Homo sapiens: one gene and its partner. The protein of the gene in region 2 purifies or fractionates together with the protein of the main gene of each other region. This does not show direct contact. Each region holds a gene or a part of one and is shown on either strand. Other genes may lie near its edges.

Region 1 (3,500 bases), on a different chromosome or scaffold from region 2:
GCCAGAACTGAGGGGGCCCTGAGGGTCCAGGGCCTGAGGAAGAGAGAGCGGGGTTGTCACTTGTCAGGCCCTCTGCCCCAGGGAGGAAGGATGGCAGACATGGTGGGGAGCGTTTGGTTATTATTGAGAGTGTCGCCGGACTACTCTTTCAAGTGTGGTATATTTTAACGTTTCCCTGAATATGGCAGACCATCGAGAATATGTCAAAAGACACGCTTTTTGGCAAAACCACTTAAAACTCCAGATCAGATGAACGTTCAAGGGCAAAAGACATTGAGGGCTGGGTGCGGTGGCTCACGCCTGTAATCCCAGCACTTTGGGAGGCTGAGCGGGGAGGATCATGAGGTCGGGAGTTCTAGACCAGCCTGACCAAAATGGTGAAACCCCTTCTCTACTAAAAATACAAAAATTAGCCAGGTGTGGTGGCATGTGCCTGTAATCCCAGCTACTCAGGTGACTGAGGCAGCAGAATCACTTGAACTCAGGAGGTGGAGGTTGCAGTGAGCTGAGATTGTGCCACTGCACTCCAGCCGGGGCAACAGAGCAAGACTGTCTCAAAAAAAAAAAAAAAAAAGACATTAAGGAACTCCTCTCCAAATAGCATTCATATTTTACTTAATTTTTTTAAGTTGTACTACTACAAAGACATCTCTTTTACAATATTTTTTAAAAGATGTAAAAGTTAACAACAGATTTTAATCTTGGTTGTTTTTCCTTTTTTGAGACAGAGTCTTGCTCTATCACCCAGGCTGGAGTGCAGTCGGGCAACCTCAGCTCACTGCAACCTACACCTCCCGAGTTCAAGTGATTCTCCTGCCTCAGCCTCCTGAGTAGCTGGGATCATAGGTGCCCACCACCATGCCTGGCTAAGTTTTTGTGTTTTTAATAGAGATGGGGTTTCACCACGTTGCCGAGGCTGGTCTCGAACCCCTAACCTCAGGTGATCCGTCTGCCTTGGCCGCCCAAAGTGCCACCACACCCAGCCCAATACCCTTAACATTTAAATGCGCATTTTTTTAACCCCAAAGTCTCACATACCCACACAGCAGAATACCTTGCAGAATACCATACAAGAGGCAGGTTTTATATATGCTGATTTTTATATATACGCGTAAAGGCCACAGTACCTTAAGCAATGTTATTGAGCATTTGACTGGGCAGAACTCTAATTCCCACATTTTACACAGAACAATGACATAGATGGTCACAACTGTAACTCAAAACACAGAGAGATCTAGATGTACCTCCTGAAGCCAATCACAGAAATACGATTAACGTCATCTCCACCAAAAATCGGGGCTGACTTTAACATTAGGCTCTTAGGTCGAAGCTCTTAGCTGTGCCATCCGGATAAAGTCCTTTCTTTTTCTTTCTGCCACTTCCTCTAACTCCCCCAATCCACCCCCCCGCCTTTTTTTTTTTTTTTGAGATAGGCTCTCGCTCTGTTGCCCAGGCTGGAGTACAGTGGTGCAATCTTGGCTCACTGCAACCCCTGCCTCCTGGGCTCAAGTGATTCTCCTGCCTCAGTCTGCGAAGTAGCTGGGATTACAGGCATGCACCACCACACCCAGCTAATTTTAATTTTGTTTTATTTTTAGTAGAGATGGAGTTTTGCTATGTTGCCCAGCCTGGTCTCGAACTACTGACCATAGATGATCCGCCCACCTCAGCCTCCCAAAGTGCTGGCAGGTAGGAGCCACCATGTCCGGCCAAAACAGCATCTTAGGTGAATATACAAAGCCAAAGGCTTGAAATTGTCAGTAGAAAATAGTTCTGGCCAGGCGCGGTGGCTCACGCCTGTAATCCCAGCACTTTGGGAGGCTGAGGCGGTGGATCGCCTGAGGTCAGGAGTTCGAGACCAGCTTGGGCCACATGGTGAAACCCTGTCTCTACCAAAAACACAAAAAATTAGCCAGTGTGGTGGCTGGCGCCTGTAGTCCCAGCTACTCAGGAGGCTGAGGCAGGAGAATCACTTGAACCCAGGAGGTGGAGGCTGCAATGAGACGAGATGGCACCAACGCACTCCAGCCTAGGCGGCAGAGTGAAACTCAGTTTCAAGGAAAAAAAAAAAAAAAAGAAAATAGTTCTGCCCTTTCTTACAAATCATAAGTAAAATAAACAGGTTATTTCTCCTCTGCACAGATTTTGTCACTCCAAGAGAGTTTGCTTCGGCTGCTACCAATTCCCATTAAATACACAAATATGGATTAATTAAAAATGAGTATACCATCACAGGTATGTGATAAAGCACATATAGAAAACTGTTAATCCAGAAGATAAGTGGTGGATAGACAGGTGTTCACTGTACAATTCAATTTTTTGGTATATTGAAATTTTCCTATAAAATGTTAGAAGGAAATCTATATTACCATCAGGTAGGATTTCGTGTAAGCAAACCACTAGGGAACAAGGTACAAAAGAGCCAAGAGGGTTGGGCGCAATGGCCCACGCCTGTAATCCCAGCACTCTGGGAGGCCGAGATGAGCAGATCATGAGGTCAGGAGTTCGAGACCAGCCTGGCCAACATGGTGAAACCCCGTCTCTACTAAAAATACAAAAAATTAGCCAGGTGCAGTGGCGGGCACCTGTAATTCCAACTACTCGGGAGGCTGAGGCAGGAGAATCGCTTGAACCTGGGAGGCGGAGGTTGCAGTGAGCCGAGATTGCGCCACACAGCACTCCAGCCTGGGGAACAAGAGTGAGACTCCGTCTCAAAAAAAAAAAAAAAAAAAAAAAAAGCCAAGAAAGTCCCCTGGTTATAGGATTAGTCGGTGGTGCCACTGACTTCTACTGCCCCAGATTAACTTTTTTATTTTTCGCTTTTTCTGTGGCCGGGTCTCACTCTGTCACCCAGGCAGGAGTGCACTGGTGTGATCACAGCGCCCTGCAGCCTCAACCTCCTGGGCTCAAGTGATCCTTCTGCCTCAGCCTCCTGAGTTACTGGAATGACAGGTGCACATCACCACGTGTGGCTAGTTTTTTGTAAAGACAGGGCCTCACTCTGTTGCCCAGGCTGGTCTCGAACTCCTGGCCTTAAGTGATCCTCCCACCTTGGTCTCCCAAAGTGCTGGGATTACGGGCATGAACCACTGTGCCTGGCCTATTTTATTTTTTTAAATAAGTTTCATTTTTCCCCCTTTTGTGAAAACTGTCAACAAATTAACTCTTTTAACGAGGTGATCTCTGTAACAACACAATGGGGAAAAAAAGATTCCAATAATTTTATGTACTATACCAGCGGTTCCCTAAAGTTCTAGTCTCTACCTTCGAAGTATTTTATTGGTAAGAAGAAAAAAAGGCCAGGCACAGTGGCTCACACCTGCAGTCCCAGCAGTTTGGGAGGCTGAGGCAGGCAGATCTCTTGAGGTCAGGAGTTCGAGACCAGCCTGGCCAACATGGTGAAACCCCATCTCCACTACAAATACAAAAATTAGCCTGGCGTGGTGGCGCGTTCCTGTAATCCCAGCTACTCGGATAGCTAAGACGGGAGAATTGCTTGA
Region 2 (3,500 bases):
CCTGGGTTCAAGCGATTCTCCTGCCTCAGCCTCCTGAGTAGCTGGGATTACAGGCATGCGCCACCATGCCCGGCTAATTTTGTATTTTTAGTAGAGACGGGGTTTCTCCATGTTGGTCAGGCTGGTCTCGAACTCCTGACCTCAGGTGTTCTGCCTGCCTCGGCCTCCCAAAGTGCTGGGATTAAAGGCCTGAGCCACTGCACCCAGCCTCTGGCACTTTTTTATATACCTTACAACACCTGAGAGAGTGCCCTGGACAAAGTGGATGCTCTTAAGAATGGATGACTACTTATGGGTAATTAGAAGATTAGAAGTATGATTTGATCAGTTGGAGACCCAAGAATCTGGTTTTATATGGCAGGTTCAATATTTGTTTTACCAGATTCTTTTCTGCATCCTTGATTTTTGGGATCAGTTAGTGGTGCAGGAAACTAAAGCTTTTGGAACTCTTTAGGGAGAGACCCAGAAAGGGGCAATGTATGTTTTCCTGTCACTGTAGATGAATCGGACAAAGGGTGATGAGGAGGAGTATTGGAACAGCTCCAAGTTCAAGGCTTTTACCTTTGACGATGAAGACGATGAGCTTTCACAGGTAGGTCAACTGCTGAAGTTTGTACTCTTCTCCACAGTGCCACTATAAAATTCCTTCCTCTTGCATTCTGGGTAACTAGGCTTTTGACCATGTATGTCTTCATTAGGCTCAGAAAAGAGCCAGAAGGATTGTAAAATCCAGCTCACTGCCTTTCTTACTTTACCTTTTTAAGATGATTTATTCCTACAGGTTTTTTTTTCTTTTGAAGAACCCCAAGTCTTTTATTTATGTGATATATATTTTTTTATTTTTGAAAGATGAACTGGATTGGAAGATTTATCTTTGTTGTGTCTATTTTGCAATTGAGGAATCATTTATTTTTAGAGAGGTGAATAAATTCACTCAGGTTTACATAGCAAGTCACTGCCAGGAATATGATGAGAATTCAAAAGTGACTTTGATTCCTCCTAACTCTTTTATCACTGGACTGTAGTGTTGGCTAAAAATCAGTTTGTTTTCTTGGCAAATATGTAGTATGCTAGGCTTTCGATTGCACAGGGCGAGTGTTGGCCACCTTCAGGCCCCAATTCCTCAGCCTTCTTGATTGTCAGAAGAGAGGTGGGAAATGATGATTTGCCTGAGCACCCTAGCCTTGTGTCCCTCTGCAGTTAAAGGAGTCCAAGCGGGCGGTGAACAGCCTCCGAGACTTCGTGGATGATGATGACGATGATGACCTGGAGCGAGTCAGCTGGAGTGGGGAACCTGTGGGAAGTAAGTAGAAGAGTCCCTAGGCAGGGATAGATGTTGAGGATTCTTATCACTGATAAAGGCTCTACTTGTTTGTTTCTTCAATGCTAGTTAGGAGAGGGACTAGGATAAGACTATTTTCAGATAAGCATACATCTGGAAACTTAACTCCAGGAGAAGATACTTGGGAAATCCAGCAGGAGTTCCCACATGGCTATATAGGTCTGCTCTTCAGGGGTTGACTCTTAGCTGGCTATTTCATTCTCATTTGGGGTGCTTGTTAAAATGACATACTCCTAGGCTTTATCCCAGAGATTCTGTTCATTAGGTCTTCTGCGGAGTAGAGGGGGTCTCAAATTTTAATAAACACTGCAGGTGATTCTGATATATAGCCATATTTGGGAACTACTGACTTGACTCAGTATACTAATAACTGATTGACAGAACGGACTTCCTTACCCACCAAGTCTCACTGCTTAGCTGTATATGATACCACTTAATACTTTTTCAGAGTCCATTTGATTTTTTTTTTTTTTTTTTTTTGAGATGGAGTCTTACTCTGTTGCCTAGTCTGGAGTGCAATGGCGCGATCCTGACTCACTGCAACCTCCGCCTCCCAGGTTCAAGCGATTCTCATGCTTCAGCCTCCCTAGTAGCTGGGATTAAAGGTGCCAACCACCATGCCTGGCTAATTTTTGTATTTTTAGTAGAGATGGAGTTTTACCATGTTGGCCAGGCTGGTCTTGAACTGCTGACCTCAAGTGATCCGCCTGCCTTGGCCTCCCAAATGCTGGGATTATAGGTATGAGCCACCATCCCTGGTCCCCATCTGATTTTTAAGAAATATTTTTAATTGAAAGTTTTTAAAAAATAGGCCATACTATAATGTGACTAAAGATTAAAAAAAAAAAATTAAAGGTCTACAGTGAAAAGTTTCCGTTCCATATTGTTATGTATCTTCTCAGTTTTCAGTTCATGTCCTCCCAAAAAACAATCGTTGCTTGGTTCCTGTGTATTCATCTAAAGACTCTTTTTGCATCTGGAAAAGTATATAGAAACATGTATTCTTATCCCATTTTTACACAAGCAGTAGCATGCTTCATACCTTGCTCTTTTTATGTGTTAATATAGCTTGGAGATCTTTCCATGTCAGTATATAAAGAGTGTTCTCATTTTCTCTTTCTTTTTTTTAAATAGCAGCATAGTATTAAATTGTATGGGTTTACCATCATTTTTTAGCCAGCCCACTGTTGAATTTTAGATTTTTCAATCTTTTGCTCTTTATATTTCTATCATTGACTTTATATTCTGACCATAGATGCATAAATGAAAGAGCAATTCTTAGAGTGGAATTACTCACATAGGATGTTTGCATCTGTATTGGGTAGATATTGCCAAATTGACCTCCACAGGGGTTGTACCAATTCATACTACCACCAGCAATGGAGGAGGGTTCCAGTTTCCCTATAGCCTGGCTAACACGGTATTATCAAGCTTTTGGATCTTTCCCCATCTTATAGGGGACTAATGGTTTCTCATTATATTTTTAATTTGTAGTACTCTTAGCAAAGCTGGGGGCAGGTGGTGTGTGCCTCTGGAGGGTAGTGGCGATGGATGGCTTGAGGCCAGGAGTTGAGGCTGACGTGAGACATGACTGTTAGATATGATTGTGAATAGCCACTGTACTCCAGAGCTCCGGCAATGTAGTGAGACCCTGTCTCTAAAAAAAAAGAAAAAAAGAGAAAAAAGAGTAAGGTTGAGCATCTTTTCATATGTTGAAGAGCCATTTGAATTTTCTGTGATCCACCTATTCATGTCCTTGGTCCATTTTTCTGCTGATTAGTCTATTTGATTCTATCTTTTCTCCCTGCCCCAAGTTGGCCAAGGGACCAGGGCTTCTGGTGAAAAGCTTTTAGAGTTTATTGAATGTTGGATGTCAAGGCTTTATTGTGGATGAGAATTGCTGATGTAGTTCTTACTATCTCACAGGTATCTCATGGTCCATCAGAGAGACTGCTGGTAATAGCGGCTCAACCCACGAGGGGCGTGAACAGCTAAAGAGCCGAAACAGCTTCTCCTCCTATGCACAACTACCCAAGCCTACTTCTACCTACTCCCTGAGCAGCTTTTTTAGAGGTAAAGAGAGATGCTTAAATGGATAGGGAAGTCCTTCTCTTTTTCCAGAAAAATCTTAGGCCATAATTTTCATTTACTTTGTAAG

The links.
Region 1: the proteins of VIPAS39 (region 2) and VPS33A purify together in Homo sapiens (affinity purification with western blotting; one study listed by BioGRID and IntAct). This does not show direct contact.

The regions. Positions count from the first base shown.
Region 1 is NC_000012.12:122,252,995-122,256,494, forward strand, and holds part of VPS33A (vacuolar protein sorting-associated protein 33A), read right to left. Parts: intron 550-3,500; coding exon of another isoform or gene 472-549; exon of another isoform or gene 1-471.
Region 2 is NC_000014.9:77,451,102-77,454,601, reverse strand, and holds part of VIPAS39 (spermatogenesis-defective protein 39 homolog), read left to right. Parts: intron 1-499; coding exon 500-592; intron 593-1,200; coding exon 1,201-1,303; intron 1,304-3,268; coding exon 3,269-3,415; intron 3,416-3,500.